2 linked regions of the Homo sapiens genome follow. The protein of the gene in region 2 purifies or fractionates together with the protein of the main gene of each other region. This does not show direct contact. Each region holds a gene or a part of one and is shown on either strand. Other genes may lie near its edges.

Region 1 (10,500 bases), on a different chromosome or scaffold from region 2:
GTACTTCAGATGGACAGTCTATCCAGAAACACTGAGTGTATCACATGCATTCCAATACATTAGCACTATTATATAAAAAAGGATAGGGTGCAGGATATCCTCTGAAGACTAGTTTTTAAAGGTCTAAATGCAAAACTCTATGGAACTACAGTTCCATATGACTACCCATATGTAAAAGCTAATGTATTCTTTAATACCTAATTTCTCTAATAAATATCCTGTCAGTTTTTAATAATTCTTTCTGCCCTATCTGAATTTAGGTTTTAAAGAAATGTTTTCTATGCGATTATATGTATAGCAGCCTTCATACATTTAGAGCTTTAGCAGTTACGTAATCATAATAATGAATGAGTTGAACTATGAAGTATCTATTTTTAAACTCAACAAATAATGCAAACATAACTATAAAATTTCTCTTTTGGCTTACCTAAAGAGAATATAGAAGATGAAGGAAAAGAAGCGTTCTTTTGCACACTACCTGACATTCGCTGCAAAAAGCAAACTTAGGTATTCATAAATGATGGTCACCTAAGGGCCTAAATAAAAATACATCAACTTCATTTTCCCTTAAATATGTATGCCAAGTAATACAACTGTAATTCATAAGAATATACAATTGAGCATATTAATTTGAAGAACTAATGATTTCCCTAAACTTCAAAGCAATAGAGAAAAATGTATCAATTTTTCCTAAGCATTGTGTAATTTGTAACCACCCTCTTCAGCCACCAGATGGGATTCATTTGTTAAGATAAACAAATGAAAATACTTAAATACTTACCTAATAAACACTAAAATTTGCTGACATTCTCTTATTCTTTTACTTTCTTAATGAACTTGCTTTCACTTTACTCTAAGGACTCACCCTGAATTCTTTCTTGTGAGAGATCCAAGAACTCTTTTTTGGGGGTCTGGATGAGGACCCCTTTCCAGTAACATCTTCCTGGGAAACCATGAAATGAGATAGTGGAGAGACCCCCAACCCAAAGGAAATAGACTGCAGCACCAATTAGCTGACTTTGGAGTCAAGAACACTTTTCTTTCGAGATTTTGCAGCTTTTAACAACTGAGTAAAGTATACTCTTATAAACAAAATTTGGAGCATATTTCTTTCTCTCTATCTGATTTCTCCAGAATTTGGAAACTATTTGTGAGTATTCTTAACTTACAGCAATATGTAACTACAATAAGAATCTGTTTTCTTTTGTAACAGGACACAATTGGAGAAACTGGTTATTTTACCAAGACTTTGACTGGAATAGCATGCTTTCAGATATGGACTTGTTTAAGGAATCAAATTTGACTCATAGAGCTGATAAAAGCCCCTGGGAAAAACTGGCCACATATCTTGTCTACACGGTCCCTGTACAAGGTTTCTGACCTGTCTGGGGTAAGTAAAGAAAGTCACTTTCTGACAGGCCCAAAAGCCCCAAGTTATCATGAAACCTCAAAAGGAAAGAAACTTACCCAACTCATACAGGTATTTGCAGGCAATGATAAACCCATGGCAAGGCTCAAGGCTTTAAGAAGTCTCATTTGAGATTCTTTATGGATCAAAGTTCTATCAAAGTCAATTTAAAAAGAGCCTATATAGGAACTAATTATTCTTGCTGCACTTTATACAAATAATCAGGCCAAGTATAATAAGACTAAAGCTTATTTTGCAAACAAATCAGTCCTACCATGATTTCTTTAGTAAAAATGAAAGACTGAAAATAGGAAAATTGTTTCAAAAACTATGGTATGCTTTTTATTAGATTTGTCTCATCAGTAGTTTTTGAGTTCTTTCTGCAATTTGGACTCATCCTGCTTATCCTTGTGGACCAAGCAGTGATCTGTGGCTGCTGTTCAGAAGAAACAAGAGGCATGGGTAACACAGAAATCTGGATCAGTATTCTAATTGTGGGCATGTATTGGAATTGGCTAGCACATCAGCTTGGTTCCAACTCCATATCAGCTTGGTTACAACAATTTCCCAGTTCATGAAAAGCCTTCTTATTTAGTTTACTTGGGATAATTTTACTTATTTTGCCTTGTTATTGTAGAATATACTGCTGTTGTTCTCTTTGTGTAGGAATGCAAGATAAGCTTACTCAGTGCTTTCTTAAATCGAACACTTATTAATTTTTCAGTCATCACTTTTTGTCAGAAATCAGAGTTCTCACCATACTGACAGTTTCTAACTGAGCTCTCCTCTACTCTGAATGCAGAAGACCCTAATAGGCAGAAATACCATCATCCCTATTCAGACTGCAGAAGTTACAGAAGATGAATCTTCCTCCCTCTGAAACCCTTAGGATTAAGAGTACCCTTGTAAAAGGGAAGGGGAAAACATGTCAGAGGTGTTCAAACCAGAGTTGAATGGGGACTGAGTAAAATAAGGCTGAGACCTGCTGGGCTGCATTCCCAGGAGGTTAGGCATTCTTAGTCACAGCGTAACAAGGAAGGTCAGCACAAGGTAAAGGTCACAAAGATCCCGCTGACAAAACAGGACGGAGTAAAGAAGCCAGCCAAAACTGAAACCAAGATGGCAACAAAAGTGACCTCTGGTCGTCCTCACTGCTCATTATACGCTAATTATAATGCATTATCATGCTAAAAGACACTCTCACCAGCCCCATGATAGTTTACAAATGACATCTAATGTCTGGAAGTTACCCTATATGGTCTAAAAAGGGGAGGAACATTCAGTTCTGGGAATTGCCTGCTCCTTTCTGAAACACTCATGAATAATCCACCCCTTATTTAGTATATAATCAAGAAATAACTGTAAGTATACTCAGTCAAGCAGCCCTCAGGGCTGCTCTGGCTATGGAGTAGCCATTCTTTTATTCCTTTACTTTCTTAATAAACTTGGATTCACTTAAAAAAAAAAACTATATAATCTCATCTTTTACAGACATATTACTTCTAAGTTGTTTTTCTCTATAGTAATTAGGGTATTACACAATAAAGAGATGTCAAAAAAGGATAAAAGAATCAGGACAGCATATTTAAAAATAACTATAACAACTACAGAATTTAACTCTTAATAAGATATGTGAATTTACCTGTTTTTTAAAAAATTACAAAGAAGGTACATATTTGCTCTATAACTTTCCATACAAGTAATACATTTAAAATATGTAGAACAAGGCCAGGCACAGTGGCTCACGCCTGGAATCCCAGCACTTTGGAAGGCTGAGGCGGGTGAATCACTTGAGATCAGGAGTTTGAAAACAGTCTGGCCAACATGGTGAAACCCCGTCTCTACTAAAAATACAAAAATTGGCCAGGTGTGGTGGTGCACACCTGTAGTCCCAGCTACTCAGGAGGCTGAGGTGGGAGAATTGCTTGAACCCAGGAGGCAGGTGTTGCAGTGACCCGAGATCACGCCACTGCACTCTAGCCTGGGTGACAGTGCAAGACTCTGTCTCAAAATCTCAAAAACAAAACAAAACAAAAAATATATAATAATAAATAAAACAAAATATAAAACAAGAATATGCTCTGTTATTTCACCTCTCCATCATCTTACTGCTGCCTAGTGAACCAACCCTCTGGTTAAGACAGCTATGCGAAGAATAGAGTTACGTCTAGTTATTTCCTACATGAAGACCTCAATAAAATACAGTAGAGAGGACATGCCCTGTGAGATTTTGAAACTTATTATGAACATACTTCACCTCAAGTTGTATGAGAATAGACATATGTCTTAAGGAAATGAGAGAACTGAAAAACAGATCCAAGTATATACACACACATAAAGCAAGATAAAATGGGCTATCAGATTCACTGACAAAGAATGATTTACGTAATAAATTGTCAGAACATAATTACCTACCCACTGAGAAGAAAATAAATCCTTAAATCTCATACCACATACAAAAAAGTAAACTCCACAAGGATTAAAGATCTAAAGTGGAATATAAGCCCCAAGGGGGCAGCAATTCACACAACTACTCTTCGTTAATAGAAGTAACACTGTCATAAACTCAGCAAGAAAAAGGGACATAAACATAAAACCTAACCATGTAGAAAATTAGTGAAGCTAGGAGAACATCATACAGGTCTTCACTGTACTACTCTTTTTTTAAAGGTTTTGTAACTTACTGATACAAAAACTTGAGGAAAAATAACTTGTAAAAAAGATTACACTTTTAAACAGTTTAAATATTTTTCTTTCTTTTGAAATCTTTTTATTGCCATTGTGTTGAATGATTTAACTATATGTGAGGAAATCCAAATATGTCCTCAATTGTCTTCCTTCGTCACTTTACATGAGTATATTGCTCTGAAATGTCAGACACTTGGTGAAAGCACAGAAAGATCGTGATCAATGCAAACGCAAAGACTGGAAAATGTAATAGCATCATCCTCCATACAATTATTACCCAGTGAGTTAAATTTTGCGTAATAATGTGGTGGTTCTGGAAAAGAGCAATCTTTAGTATTGTGTACAGTAACAAAACGGAAGTTATGCTGTTACACTTGGATCACTTATCATTTCACAATTCTTCTGGAATTCCTTATTGACAAAAATATGTACATAATATGTAAACAAGGGTCTACAAGTCACCTCAATTCAAATATATAAGATGATAAATTCAAAACAATGCTTCCTAAAAAAAAATTACTTTACCAAATTAGTCTTGCCTCATACAAAACCATCCCCAAAGAAATTATGCAAAAAACAATTTCCATGCTATTTCATAATTAAAATTACAAATCCACAAAACACTTTTTTTAAAAATTTGTTTATTTATTTATTGAGACAGAGTCTTGCTCTGTTGCGCAGGTTGGAGTACAATGGTGAGCTATCAGCTCACTGCAACCCCCACCTCCTGGGTTCAAGTGATTCTCCTGCCTCAGCCTCCCGAGTAGCTGGGATTACAGGCATGCATCACCACACCTGGCTAATTTTTGTATCTTCAGTAGAGATGGGGTTTCACCATGTTGGTCGGGCTGATCTTGAACTCCACCCATCTCGGCCTCCCAAAGTGCTGGGATTACAGGCGTGACCCACCGTGCCCAGCCAAAACACTCTTAAAACATAAAAGTCTGCACTTAATCATTACTACAAGGAAAATATAAACCTGAGATTACTGATATAAACAGCACTTACCAGACATGCCAAACCTTTCATAAATTCAGATTTTTAAAAAAAAAATACATCTGGGATTCTTTAAACTATATCTGTAAACTTTAGAAGACATTTTAGATATTTTTCAGCTTATTGTGACTATTTTTCTTAACCGAACTCAACAGTGATAAACAAATAGTTTATGTATCTTTGATTTTTCTGCAATTAAATGAAATAATAATCTAAGCTAGTATATTCCAACCACTTTTGTGCTTCTACACCATTCTCTGTCATCAACATTTCTCAATGAGTACAGTGATTTTGAACTAAGAGTCCTATCACTTTCCCAATTAAAAAAAAAAAAATCACCGGTCTACACTATTCTTCATTGCTTCTCAGGCTCTGAGAATGTAAGCATTAGTAAAACCAAACTACTTCTTTGTAAGTTTCACATATTAGATATTAAACTATACCACTTGTGCAATAACTGTCCTGCTTTACTACCTCACTTCCCAAAATGTGGTATTTATGACCAATGTACTCTCCCTTGCTATAGAATACAAAACACTGAATCATTAGAGATAGACCATCAGGGAGCTCACATTAATAATCCTGTCTAACATCATTATATACTACAGTCTCAGAAGCTAGGTATAAGCAATAAATAATACATCAGGATATCTCAGTTACATGACAATTCACACTTGTCTGCTAAATGTTTACAACAGATAAAGGCTATCAGAAACATTTACCAAATTAGCTGTGAAAATAAAAGTACACTAAATCTTAATCAGATGATACAGACATGGGTAAAATATGCAGGGAAAAAACTTGATGACTAAAAAAAAATAGCTTTTCAATCTAAAAATATAAAATCACAATTAATTTTCAAACTGCCACCTGTAAAAGCAAAGCATTATTAATTATACACTACCTGTAACACACAGCAAAATGGGCATATGCAGCTACAATCCAGTTGTGATGGCCAGCTACTATTAGCACCTTTCGTGGATCCACAGGAAATCCTGTTGATTTTGGAAAAAGAAATATTTTACATTCTAAACCGGGGGTTGGCAAATTACAGCCACCAGGCCAGTTTCAGCCTTCTGCCTGTTTTGGTTAATAGTTTTGTTAAGAGCCGGGCACAGTGGCTCACACCTGTAATCCCAGCACTTTGGGAGGCCGAGGCGGGCGGATCATGAGGTCAGGGGATCGAGACCATACTGGCTAACACGGTGAAACCTCATCTCTATTAAAAATACAAAAAATTAGTCTGGCATGGTGGCGGCCGCCTGTAGTCCCAGCTACTCCGGAGGCTGAGGCAGGAGAATGGCGTAAACCCAGGAGGCAGAGCTTGCAGTGAGCCAAGATGGCACCACTGCACTCCAGCCTGAGCGACAGAGCGAGACTCCGTCTCAAAAAAAAAAAAAAAAATAGTTTTGTTAGAACCCAGCCATGCTTACTTGTTACATATTGTCCATTATGTGTTCATGCTACAATGGCAAAGTTGAGTAGGTCTGACAGAGAACACGTGGCCCACAAAGCCTAAAATATTTAATCTCTGGCTCTTACCAGATAAATTTTGGCAACCCTGTTCTAAAGATTCAGAGAAGATAGAAGATTACACAACATTTTAAATAAAAATTAAGTGTTAAATGAGACCTTTCCAAGATATAAATGATAAATCTGGATAAAAAAGGAGATGAGGCAAAAATCTTTAAAAGTAATTACTCAATATCACCCAGCACTAAAAACATACGTATTTTTCTTTTTCTATTTCTGTAATCTTTGCTTACCTAGCCTAACAGTTTCTTCTCCCGTTCCAGAGAGAACAGGCTGTGTACCATTTCCCCGGGCTTCACCTTCTGTAGAATTTAGACCATTCCTAGAATCAGCAGATCTGACTGTGTTGTTTATTTTACGACTAGGAATACCTATAAAGAGAAGAAGAAAACAAATACATTCCTAAGTTCACCTTTCAAAAATTAAAAATATCACATTGTGACAAAGAAACAAAAATGTGAATTTCATTAAAGCCGAAATACATCTTCCAATATAGCAAATTATTACAAATAATTTAATTACAATTAAAAAATAAAATGAAAATGAAAAAAACAAAGACAAAGACAAAATTCTGTCAACAGATTTCTGGTATTGTCATACTGTTTACAATAAATAAGCTTTAGGTTACTGAATTAATGGGTAATTAATTCAGTCTGCCAGCCACTCTTTACAATTATGGTACAGGTATTATGTGTTAGGTACTATGTAATAATTTAACTGCTTTAGAACTGAAATTCCCCATACTTTCAAACATTTTTTATTTGACAGGGGAACATTTTTTAAAATGAAATCTTGCTCAGAAGTCCATTATAACACAGGTAAAATCAGGCTCTTCTAACTAAAGTGGGGCTGAGGTGACACTGACTTATCTCTGCAGAATTCCTTAAATTTTGCAAAAAAGCAGTTTGACAACCAGTGCTCTAACATATGGGTCAGCAAACTATGGGCCATGGAAAATCCAGCCCAATCAATGCTATTTATGTAAATAAAGTTGTAGTGGTTACAGTTAAACCTAGTCTTCATGTAGTATACACAGCGGAGTTAAGTGGCTGTCACAGAGATCCTCTGGCTCACAAAATCTATCTGGCTCTTTACAGAAAAAGTTTGCCAAACCCCTGCTCCAATATATAATGTGACTTAATTTCTATAAAAATCAAAAGTTCTTACCATTTCTAATAGATTTATAGACAAAAAACTCAATAATCAAGGAGCAGTTTTTCCTATTCATATGCTTGTACTTGCTTAATGATACAAGGAATTTTTTAAAAGATTTAATAAAGTGAAAATACCTGGTGGGGGCAAGTAACCATGAAAAAGGACACTGCCACAAGAGGAACGCTCCAATTCTTCACATAAGAGAAGCCTTCTTACTAAAAACATTTCAAAGCAAACTTGTCAAGAGTACATGCAAACAGAAAAACAGTACTCCATTTTTATTTTCTCTAGTTCAAGAGGATAAGGAAAGAAAAGGAAAATTTTAATTAAGTCAGAGTTGACAACATCTTTTTACTATGAAAATCCACAAAAACTAAGCACTGAACAAGTCCATCAAAAATTAGGACCTGATATAAACACATTTCATTTAGGGCAACTTTCATACATGAGTCAAATCATAAACACCAAATATTAAAAGAGCACATACCTAATGGAGTGATCCCGTAAAATTCTGCTTCATGCCTGAGAACATTAATACTCACTCCCCTACAAAGAAACAAATGATGTAAATTCTCTAACACTGGAAACCTGTATTATCATCTGACATGAAAGGAAAAAATTCTAGGTTCTTCATGTATATAGTCATAAGGCTTTAAAAATTATTTTCCTCCTAATACTCTTTATTTCTATTATCCTTAATCATTAAAAAGTGTAAATAAAAACTGCATGTGAACAAAAATATTCTGTTATCTACTTAAAAACCATTCATATATATACATATATATGAATTGGGTCACTAAAGGAGAGATTAGGGCTCTATCAGGCTAGTACAAATAAATTGTCTAGAAGGCAAACGATAGAATGGAAACCATTCTTTTATGGCATTAGTTGCTTTTAACTTTTTATCGCAATTATTTCTATACATATCTATCTTAATCTCCCCAATTACACTATAAATTCCCTGCGAGCATGATCTATTTCTGATCTATGTTTGTATACCTCACAGTGCCTAGCATAGTGCTTGTATAAAATAGTTATGTAATAAATATTTGTTGAACAAATAAAATAGAAAAAAAAAAAAGACTAGCCTTGGGAAGGGCTATGTTATCCAGATGAAATGATGCTACTTCATAGTAGTAAAGTTAAGTAACATGAAATAAAATTTTTAAAAAATGGAAGATTCAGAACTTATAATACTAATAATTCATCTTAGGTTTCAGTTGTAATTTGTCCTTATTTTAAAAATATTCCCCAGCCTTGATAAATATATACAATTACTATGTTAAATTGTTTTTATTTGTGAAACTGGTTATGACTAGTTTAACATTAAAAATGCTTAAAACTTTGTGTCTGGGGGCGGTGGCTCACACCTGTAATCCCAGCACTTTGGGAGGCCAAGGCGGGTGGATTACGAGGTGAGGAGATGGAGACCATCATGACTAAAACGGTGAAACCCCATCTCTACTAAAAATACAAAAAAATTAGCCGGGTGTGGTGGCGGGTGCCTGTAGTCCCAGCTACTTGGGAGGCTAAGGCAGGAGAATGGCGTGAACCCGGGAGGTGGAGATTGCAGTGAGTCTGGGTGACAGAGTAAGACTCAGTCTCAAAAAAAAAAAGCTTCAAACTTTCTTATTCTATTTCGAAACTATTTGTGTTAACAGTACAGCAGTACTGGCCAGAGGCATGATCATAACTCACTGCAGCCTCAAACTCCCGGCCTCAAGGGATCCTCCTGCCTCAGCTTCTTCTCTAGAGTAGCTGGGATTATAGGCGTGTACCACCACATCCAGTTTCAGTGTGAGGAAACTTTTAATCAAAGTCTTAGTAAAAAAAAAAAAACCTTTTCTGGCTGGGCGTAGTGGCTCATTCCTGTAATCCCTGCACTTTGGGAGGCTAAGGCGGGGAGACTGCCTGAGCTCAGGCGTTTGCAATCAGCCTGGGCAACACAGTGAAACCCCTTCTCTACTAAAATACAAAAAATCAGCCGGGCATGGTGGCATGTGCCTACAGTCCCAGCTACTCGGGAGGCTGAGGCAGGAGAATTGTTTGAACCTGAAAGGCGGAGGTTGCAGTGAGCAGAGATCATGCCACTGCACTCCTGCACTCCAGCCTGGGCAACAGAGCAAGACTGCAACTCAAGGAAAAAAAAAAACAAACAAAAAAAACCTTTTATTTCATAAAACATATTAAAAACACATATTTATCAGTAAGAATTTACTTTAAAAAGAGTGCATTTCTTACCTTAAGTCTAGTTCTTTTGTCCGAAGAAAATTTAAAATGGGTGCAAATGCTGCTGGATCTCTATCAATAAATATCTGTAAAAAAGAGAACAGTTTTATTTTCAAATTACAAATTAATCTTTTAACTTTAATATCTGTAACACTAATAGGGAATGAAGTCTTAATTACTTAAATACTACATTTCCTTGTTTCCACTCTTAAACTTTAATGTTTCTAAAATTGGAATGTAGTCTGTGTGCATTTCATGAGATGGTGTCTTTTTCTTGAGATGGTGTCTTTTTCTTCCTCTGAATAGTTATTATTAAACTGATATTTTAATACATAGAAAAAATCTTGTCTAATAAAATCACTTGTATTGATACCTTTGGTAAAAGTGACACCTGAGGAAACATTTTTATCTGAAACAGTCTAGAATTCAATTAATACTTCGAAAACATGAATAAATAATACTTTCTTATACTGTTCAATCATTAAAACTAC
Region 2 (10,500 bases):
TGAAGGCAGCATGCTCGTTAAGAGTCATCACCACTCCCTAATCTCAAGTACCCAGGGACTCAAACACTGCGGAAGGCCGCAGGGTCCTCTGCCTAGGAAAACCAGAGACCTTTGTTCACTTATCTGCTGACCTTCCCTCCACTATTGTCCTGTGACCCTGCCAAATCCCCCTCTGCGAGAAACACCCAAGAATGATCAATAAAAAAAAAAAAAAAAAGAAAGAAAAGAAAAATAGTTCAAAGTTGGCTGGGCACAGTGGCGTATGCCTGTAATCCCAGCACTTTGGGAGGCCAAGTCAGACAGATCACTTGAGGGTCAGGAGTTCAAGACCAGCCTGGCCAACATGGCGAAACCTCATCTCTACTAAAATACAAAAAAAGAGAGAGCTGGGCATGGTGTCACACACCTGTAATTCCAGCTATTTGGGAGGCTGAGGCAGGAGGATTGCTTGAACCCAAGAGGCAGAGGTCACAGTGAGCCAAGATCACATCGCTGCACTCCAGCCTGGGTGGCCGAGTGAGACTCAGCCTCAAAAAAAATGAAAGGAAAAGAAAAATAGTTCAAAGTTAGTAGTAACCAGAGAAATGCAAATAAAATAAAAATTAGATTTGCATTGTATACCGTTTCAGATTGGCAAAAATGTGTCTATACATATATATATCTTTTAAATTTTATGAAAGTAATACATGTTGTATATAGATGTGCAAGGATCTGTTATTTATAGTGACCTTCCCATCCTCTGTGTCAGTATTTACATCTCTGGGCTGTCGTTGTGTTTGGCTCTTGCATGGGTACTTTCTTTTTTTTTACTTTTTGATGCTTCCAGGCTGTAGCTTGGAAAACTAGATAACTTAGGTTATGTAGTGCCTTTTTGGAGCAGCATTAATTCATAGTCTTTAGGCTTATAGACTTTTCTTGAGTTTTTTCTTTTTCTTTTTTTAATCTTTTGATCAACTCCCAAGTGCTTGGAAGACTTTGAAAACATATTGCTTTTTTTTTCCCCCTGTGACAGAGTCTCACTCTGTCACCTAGGCTGGAGGACAGTGGCACGATCTTGGCTCACTGCAACCTCTTCCCCCAGGCTCAAGTGATCCTCTCACCTCAGCCTCCCAAGTAGCTGGGACCACAGACATACACCACCCCGCCCAGCTAAGTTTTTGTATTTTTGGTAGAGATGGGGTTTTTCTGTGTTGCCCAGGCAGGTCTTGAACTCCTGAGCTTAAGCAATCCACCCACTTCAGCCTCCCAAAGTGCTGGGATTATAGGTGTGAGCCACTGTGCCTGGCTGAAAACATATTTCTACCCATTAGAGGACTTTTTTAGCATATTGATGCAATACTGATTATATTCTAATATCTATAGTCATTAATAACTGATACTCAGCCAAAGAAAGTATTGTTCTAGGCAATGTGACAGTTTTTGTATGTCATTGCCTATTTTTAAAAATAAAGTTACATTCCTAGAATAGTGTTTAGTATTATCCAGAATGGTGTTATTATTACCCTATTTATGAATAAGAGTCATAGATTTCTAATAGAATCTCAGAGAAAACCAATGTAATCTTATTTTGGTTTCAGTTAGTGTATTTAACCTGAGGGCATGATGTGGAATTTTAGAAGTAAGAAAATTGGCCGGGCGCGGTGGCTCACACCTGTAATCCCAGCACTTTGGGAGGCTGAGGAGAGCGGATCACCTGAGGTCAGGAGTTCAAGACCAGCCTGGCCAACATGGTGAAACCCCATCTCTACTAAAAATACAAAATTAGCCGGGTGTGGTGGCACATGCCTGTAATCCTAGCTACTCGGGAGGCTGAGGCAGGGCAATTGCTTGAACCTGGGAGGTAGAGTTTGCAGTGAGCTGAGATTATGTCGTTGCACAAAATACAAAAATTATGGCATAGCACGTGCCGTAATCCCCACTACTGAGGAAGCTGAGGCAGCAGAATCACTTGCGCCCAGGAGGCAGAGGCTGCAGTGAACTGAGAGCTTGCCACTGCACTCCAGCCTGGGCGACAGAGCAAGACTCTGTCTCAAAAAAAAATAAAAATAAAAAAATACATTTAAACTCTGTCAGTCAAAATTCATCTTGATATATTTTGTTAGTTGTACCTTTGTTGTTGTTTTTATGTTCTAGAACCTAGGAAGTTAGTACACCTTCCATTTCTCACCCATTCCCCAATGCCCTGCCACATCTCCCCCTCCCAGAAATTATTTTTTCTTTTGGGGTTTGTTTCTGCTCTGTTTTCATTCTCTCTGTTTGTATTTTCCATTTTGGGTCCCTTTTAATCAATATGCCTTCCTGGTATCATAAATAATGTAAGACAAAGCTTATTGGAAAGATTTAAAATAGTATATTTAAGTATGAAAATTAAATATTTTTCTTGCTCTGCTCAGTCTTTTATATTTGCCACTGGACTTGCAAAATTGGGAGAGTCACATCAATCATATTAAATATTCGTAACACTTAATTCACTGCAATTTGCATTTTTAGATGTAATTTATATAATTAATATATAATCATTTAACTTCAGTGAATGATTTTTTTTCTTATATATGGTCTATCCATTTTTACTGATAGACGGAATCAGCAGGAATTCAGCGTGCACAGATTCAGAAAGAACTTTGGCGAATTCAGGATGTCATGGAAGGGCTGAGTAAACATAAGCAGCAAAGAGGTACTACAGAAATAGGTAAATTAGCTTTGCATTTTATTTTGTGACTGACCACAGTATTACAGTCATGTGTCGCTTGGTGACAGATTACATTCTGAGAAATGCATTGTTAGGTGATTGTGTTGTACAATCAGAGTGTACTTAAACAAATCTAGTTGTATGGCCTACTACACACCTAGGCTATGTGGTATATAGCTTATTGCTCCCAGGTTGCAAACCTGCACAGCATGTGACTGTACTGAATACTGTAGACAGTTGTAACACAATGTTATTTGTATATCTAAACATAGAAAAGGTAATGTGTTACACTCTGACATGAGGGCAACAACTAGGCAATAGATATTTCTCAGCTCTGGCTGGGCACAGTGGCTCACACCTGTAATCCCAGCATTTTGGGAGGCTGAGGTGGGCAGATCACCTGAGGTCAGGAGTTCAAGACCAGCTTGGCCAACGTGGTGAAACCCTGTCTCTACTAAAAATACAAAAAAAGCCAGGCATGGTGGCGCATGCCTGTAGTCCCAAATACTCAGGAAGCTTAGACAGGAGAATCGCTTGAACCCGGGAGGTGGAGGTTGCAGTGAGCCAAGATCATGCCAGTGTGCTCCAGCATGGGCAGCAGAGGGAAACTGTCCCAAAAAAAAAAAAAAAAATTTTCTCAGCTGCATTATAATCTTATGGGACCACTGTCGTATATGTAGTCTGTTGCTGACCAAAACATTGGTATGTGGCACATGACTGAATGTCTAAATGGAATGACATATATAATTGAGTTTCTTTTGTTATTTTAATGCATTTTTCTGAACAGGCACTCTTAACATTGAATCAGAGCACAGGTTTATAAAGTAAAAAGTGAAAGCTCTGTCAACCATACCTAAACAAAAATAATTATTGTCTTGTGTGTATAATTATAAATATCCACAATGTTTACACTTTAGAAGTTTTATCCCCACAACAAGAACTGGGATCATCCTATATCTATTTTTCAATAATTTGCTTTTTTCTCCATAACAATGCAGTGTAAGAATCCATTGTATAAGGGAACTGTAATATATTTATCCATTTCCATATTGATGGATAATGTATGTTGTTTCCAGAGTTTTTTATGAATGCTGTCATAAGCCATGCCATAGTGAACATTATTAATACATACAACTAAACACATATGTTAGTACTTAATGGATTTTAAAAGGTGAGAAATAAGCACATGTTTTCCATTTGGATAACTGCGGCCAAAATGCCCTCCTGAAGGATTATTTCACATTATGTTAATACCAGTAATGTTTGAGAAAACCCATTTCCCCATACTCTTGTTTAAATATTTGTTGCCTTTTTAATGTAATTGCTTTCCAATTCTGAAAACAATAAGTGAATGATTAGAAACTGAAGACTTCATTTAAAATATGTGAAATCGGCCAGGCGTGGTTGCTCACGCCTGTAATCCCAGCACTTTGGGAGGCCGAGGCAGGCGGATCACTTGAGGTCAGGAGTTCAAGACCAACCTGGCCAACATGACAAAACCCCGGCTCTACTGAAAAAAAAAAAAAAAAGTACAAAAATTGGCCAGGTGTGGTGGTACGCACCTGTGGTCCCAGCTACTTGGAAGTCTGAGGCAAGAGAATCTCTTGAACCCGGGAGGCAGAGATCACGCCACTGCACTCCAACCTGGGCAACAGAGTGAAAAACAATAAAGAAATAAAAATAAGCCGGGCGCAGTGGCTCATGCCTGTAATCCGAGCACTTTGGGAGGCCAAGGCGGGCAGATCACCTGAGGTCAGGAGTTCGAGACCAGGCTGGCCAACTTGTTGAGACCCCATCTCTACTAAAAATACAAAAATTAGCCATGCATGGTGGCGTGCACCTATAGTCCCAGCTGCTCGGGAGGCTGAGGCAGAAGAATTGCTTGAACCTGGGACGCAGAGGTTGCAGTGAGCCGAGATCTTGCCACTGCACTCCAGCCTGGGCGACAGAGCGAAACTCTGTCTCAAAAAAAAATAAAAATAAAAAATAAAAATAAATAAAAATAAAAATAAATTTAAAAAAAAATACATGAAATTGTTCTTTTTTTGGCTGGACGCCATGGCTCACGCCTGTAATCCCAGCACTTTGGGAGGCCGAGGCAGGTGGATCACTTGAGGTTAGGAGTTCAAGACCAGCCTGACCAACACGGTGAAACCCCATCTCTACTAAAAATAAAAAAAATCAGTTGGGCGTGGTGGCGCACGCCTGTAGTCCCAGCTACGAGAGGCTGAGGCACAAGAATTGCTTGAACCCAGGAGGCGGAGGTTGCAGTGAGCTGAGATCACGCCACTACACTCCAGCTTGGGCAAACAGCAAGACTTCATTTCAAAAAAACAAAAGAAATTGTTCTTTTTTTATAGTATTAGAAAGATATGTTTAATATAGTTACGTTTTCTAATATTCCCAGGTATGATAGGATCAAAGCCTTTCTCAACAGTTAAGTACAAAAATGAGGTAAGTTTGGATTGTTTTTCTAATTATAAATTACTTTTAATGCTTAAGAGATGAATTAGAAGTAATTGTCTTCTCTAATCTTAATAACAAAAATATTTTTTAAATATATTGAACAGATATTGTTTTAGTCTTGAAATTTTATTGGATCAGTAATTTGGTGCTTCTAATATGTGATTTTTCTTCCCTTTTTTAATGCAAAAAAATGGAATCTCTGCTTTTTATCTGTTAGAATTTTAACGTTGTCATACTTTTTCTAATCTAAGTAATGTTTGAATACTTATCATTGTTTCTTATACTATGTAAAATTTATAGGATGATCGATAGATAAGTTGGTTGTATGTCATGCGTAGCATAAAGAAATTACAACTACAAAGAGATACTGTCAACCTAACCAAAAGAATCTATTATTTTGAATTTCGTATAAAAACCAAAGAGGTAACTTTTTTTTTTCCTCTCTTAAAAATTGGGGGGCCAGGTGCAGTGGCTCATGCCTGTAATCCCAGCACTTTAGGAGGCCAAGGCAGGAGGATGTCTTGAGCCCAGGAGTTTGAGACCAGCCTGGTAAACATAGCAAGACCCCCATCTCTAGAAAACATTGAAAAATTAGACGGGCATGGTGTGCCTGTGGTCCCAGCTACTCGGGAGGCTGAGCCAGGAGGATCCCTTGAGCCCAGGAGTTCAAAGGTGCAGTGAGCTATGTATGATCAAATCACTGCACTATAGCGAGACCCCATCTCTACCAAATAAATAAATAAGATAAATTGTGAAAATATAAGAATAGGATTTTAAAATCAGTTCTTTCCTTCTAGTTTTAAAATGAAACCCAGTAATTAGTTTTAAATAGTAATCTCTTTCAATGTTGAGTTTCAGTGTGAAGCTAACCTATATGTTACAGGAAAGAATCAGATGTAATTATATGTTAAATTCCAATTATTGGCTATGATAAAAAATTTTTGATTTTACTTTTCATTATTAGACTTTTGGCTTGGCAGTGTCCCTTTTAGTATCTTAAAGTAAATTTAAGTTAATATACCATTGCAAAGAATTTAGATATGCTTAATTCAATCTGCTTATCTAAATAAGGTGACTGTTCTACAATCTTTAGGAAGAGGAAGTAGTCCCACCTCGTCCTCCACTTCCTCGGTCCTATGACTTTACAGAGCAGCCTCCCATAATCCCCCCTCTGCCCAGTGATAGCAGCTCCTTGCTCTGTTATAGCAGGGGCCCAGTTCATCTGCCTGAAGAAAAGAAGATGTATCAAGTTCAAGGATATCCAAGAAATGGATCTCACTGTGTAAGTGGCTGGAATAGCCACAGAATAATCAATCCTACATGTCCTCTCATTTTTGAAAATTAATTTATTTTACACTCAAACTTTTTTTTTATTATAACCTTTATAACCTCATTTTTGGCCAGCAGTTTTTAGTTTATATATGACTTTATCATTTGTGTCTTTCCTGTTTTGGTTTTGCTATTCTCATTTTTAATATTTTTATAATTTTAATATTTTATAATTTCATAGCATTTTTCATATTTTCATAAAGTGGTAACTTTTCCCATGATGAAGCAGCCGTATTTTAGATATACCATTTTAGGGTATTGGAGGCAAGATTATACCTTCAGATCAGAAAGAAGGGAGAAAGAAAAAGACCGTTACTAGGGATGGTAAAGGGGCTGGGATGTGGACATTTTGGTCTAGGAAAACTACTCAAAGATGTGGATGTTGCTAAGGAGAGATGTCACCCCTGAAAATGGGAAATACGTTTAGGGTTAAGCAAATAATGTAGGATATAATAAGCAAAGAGAAAAAGGAAATTAGAATTGAGCTAATTTGAGAACAACAAAATGTCTGTGACAGGAATTTTAGTGCTGGGATGGGCCTCACTTAGACTACCTTGTGAATGAAAATTTATTGAATTAATATAGTTATTTTTAGCCCTCAATTATTCCATCATAAAAATGTGACTTTGTTCCTAAGAGGAACAGAAATATTCTTTTTTTTTTTTTTTTTTTTGAGACAGGGTCTCACTCTTTCCCAGGCTGGAGTGCAGTAGAGCAATCTCAGCTCACTGCAAGCTCCGCCTCCCAGGTTCAAGTGATTCTCCTGCCTCAGCCTTCTGAATGGCTGGGATTATAGGCGCACACCACCATGCCCAGCTAATTTTTGTATTTTTAGTAGAGACAGGGTTTCACCATGTTGGCTGGGCTGGTCTCAAACTCCTGGCCTCAGGTGATACACCCACCTTGGCCTCCCAAAGTGCTGAGATTACAGGTGTGAGCCACTGCACCCGGCCAGAAATATTCTTAATATTAAAACGAAGTTTTGCCACTTAAAAATTTCTCAAATTTCTTCTTTCCACGTAATTGTGACATAGGTATTATTTGTGTTATATCCCAGATGGCTCACTAGGGCTACTAATGTTTAGAGTTTGATTTGTGTCTTTAGCAGTAAACATTTTAAAAGAAACTTTTAGCAGTTTTTTAGGGTAATTACATGTCTTCCTTTCAAGGGTCCAGATTATAGACTCTACAAGAGTGAACCAGAGTTAACAACAGTGGCAGAAGTTGATGAATCTAATGGAGAAGAAAAATCAGAACCTGTTTCAGAGATAGAAACTTCAGTTGTTAAAGGTCAGCATTTGTAATATGTTTTACCTCTTGGTTTTTGTTTTTGAAGACAATTTACTGCCAAAATAGTAGTAAATTCCATTTACATGTTGACTCATATATGAGTCCAACCCTTTATCTGAAACCTTTGGACTCTGATGAGTTTCTAAATTAAGAAATTTTCAGATATTAAAAGATAAAATGGCCCATAAATGATATATGTCATCTCAGCTAGGTATGAGGCAGCACCCTTTTTTTAACACTATTTCTACAATATTCATTCCAAGTGGCATAAATAAATGCTAAAAATAAAAGACATTAGCTGGGCATGGTGGCACGTGCCTGAATCCCAGTTACCCGGGAGGCTGAGGCAGGAGAATCACTGGAACCCAGGAGGTGCAGGCTGCAGTGAGCCGAGATCGCACCACTGCACTCCAGCCTGGGCAACAGAGCAAGACTTCGTCTCATAAATAAAAATAAAAGACATCACATCAGATTAGGTTTTACTAAGAAATAAGTTTATGTCAAACTTTAAAGTTTCCCATTTCCTGGGAGAGTTTTCTTTTTTTTTTTTTCTGTTTCTGGTGGTTGTTTTTGTTGTTGTTGTTGTTGTTGTTGTTGTTGTTTGTGATGTGTTGTTGTGTGTGAGGTCTCACTCTGTCACCTGAGCTGCTGTACTGGAGCAAACATGGCTCACTGTAGCCTCGACCTCCCAGACTCGGTGATCCTCTCACTTCAGCCTTCCAAGTAGCTGGGACTACAGGCACACACCACCATACCCAACTAATTTTTTAAGTATTTGTAGAGACAAGGTCTTGCCGTGTTGCCTAAGCTGGTCTTGAACTCTGGGGATCAAGCATTCCTTCCACCTCAGCCTCCCAAGGTGTTGGGATTACAAGCATGTGCCACCACACCTGGACAGGGTCTTTTCTGTGTGTGTGTTTAAAATTATGCATAAGGTATTAATGGCTGAAACAAATTTTCACACAATATCAACAAAGTAAATTCTAAAATAATATTTCTGTAATGTATACTCTGATTTTTTTCTTAATGCTGGTCATTTTTCTAGAAGGCAATTGCGTAAAGAAAAGAGTAGAGAGAGAACTATCCTAGATTAAAAAGATAGATAGGCCAGGGGTGGTGGCTAACGCCTGTAATCCCAGCACTTCAGGAGGCCGAGGTGGGCGGATCACCTGAGGTCAGGAGATCAACAACAACAGCAACAACAACAACAACCAGAAACAGAAAAAAAAAAAAAACTCTCCCAAGAAATGGAAACTCTACCAGCCTGGCCAATATGGTGAAACCCCATCTCTACTAAAAATACAAAAGTTTGGCTGGGCACGGTGGCTCACTCCTGTAATCCCAGCACTTTGGGAGGTGGAGGCGGGCAGATCGCAAGGTCAGGAGGTGGAGACCATCCTGGCTAACATGGTGAAACCCTGTCTCTACTAAAAATACAAAAAATTAGCCATGCATGGTAGCACACACCTGTAGTCCCAGCTACTCAGGAGACTGAGACAGGAGAATCACTTGAACCCAGGAGTCAGAGGTTGCAGTGAGCCAAGATCGTGCCACTGCACTCCAGTCTGGGTGACAGAGTGAGACTCCGTCACACACAAAAAAATAACAGATAGATATATCGCACTGTTTGAAACTTGATTGGACCATGGTTTAAAAGAAGAATCTCTAAAGTAGCACAATTAATGGAAATTTAAACATGTTCTAGATATTAGCTAACAGTGTGATTGTGATATTGTGGTTGTGTAGTAGAATGTAGTATGTGAATTCTGAAACACTTAGGACAAAAGCATCTGCCACTTTTAAAGGATTCGCCAGAAAGAATGTGTATGTATTTATGCAGAGATAATGTAAGTGTGACAAAATGTAAAACTTTTTAGAAAAATAAGTGCTTATCATAACCCACTGGACTGATTTTTGTAATCTGCTAAAGGATCACTAAGTAAAGTTTGAAAAACATCAAAGTGAGGCCAGGCTTGGTGGCTCACGCCTATCTATAATCCCAGCATTTTGGAAGGCAGAGGCGGGCGGATCACAAGGTCAGGAGTTCAAGACCAGCCTGGCCAACATGGCGAAGCCCCATCTCTACTAAAAATACAAAAATTAGCCAGGTGTGGTGGCGGGCACCTGTAATTCCAGCTACTCGGGAGGCAGAGGCAGGAGAATCACTTGAACTGGGAGGCAGAGGTTACAGTGAGCCAAGATCGTGCCACTGCACTCCAGCCTAGACAGTGACTCCATCTCAAAAAAAAACACAAAAGCAAACAAACAAGAAAACACCTAAGTGGTAGTAATGTTCACATAGCTTTTTTCATTGTTGGAATATTTTTCTAGGTTATCTAATGTCGTTTTTTAAATTTAAAAATACTGGCATCTTGAAAATTTAATATTTATACACCTTTTCTTTCTCATCCTAATCCTGTCTCCTTATTCAAAGTCTTTTTTTTTTTTTTTTTTTTTGAGACAGGATCTCACCATCGGCCCAGGCTGGAGTACAGTGGTGAGATCATGGCTCACTGTAGCCTCCTTCCTCCTCTGCCTGCCAAGTAGCTGAGACTACACACGTGTGCCACCACACCTGGCTAATTTTTGTATTTATTGTAGAGACAGGGTTTCACCATGTTGCCCAGGCTTGTCTCAAACTTCTAGGCTCAAGCAATCTGCCTGCCTCAGCCTCCCAGAGTGTTGGGATTACAGGCGTGAGCCACCACACCTGGCCACAACAAAGA

Evidence for each region.
Region 1: the proteins of PLEKHA5 (region 2) and KCTD3 purify together in Homo sapiens (affinity purification with mass spectrometry; 2 studies listed by BioGRID). This does not show direct contact.

Annotation. Positions count from the first base shown.
Region 1 is NC_000001.11:215,575,496-215,585,995, reverse strand, and holds part of KCTD3 (BTB/POZ domain-containing protein KCTD3), read right to left. Parts: intron 10,096-10,500; coding exon 10,022-10,095; intron 8,327-10,021; coding exon 8,268-8,326; intron 8,068-8,267; exon of another isoform or gene 8,006-8,067; coding exon of another isoform or gene 7,996-8,005; coding exon 7,915-7,995; intron 6,997-7,914; coding exon 6,859-6,996; intron 6,088-6,858; coding exon 5,997-6,087; intron 1-5,996. UniProt on the Homo sapiens protein: Accessory subunit of potassium/sodium hyperpolarization-activated cyclic nucleotide-gated channel 3 (HCN3) up-regulating its cell-surface expression and current density without affecting its voltage dependence and kinetics.
Region 2 is NC_000012.12:19,340,746-19,351,245, forward strand, and holds part of PLEKHA5 (pleckstrin homology domain-containing family A member 5), read left to right. Parts: intron 1-2,577; coding exon 2,578-2,689; intron 2,690-5,096; coding exon 5,097-5,143; intron 5,144-6,248; coding exon 6,249-6,437; intron 6,438-7,653; coding exon 7,654-7,774; intron 7,775-10,500.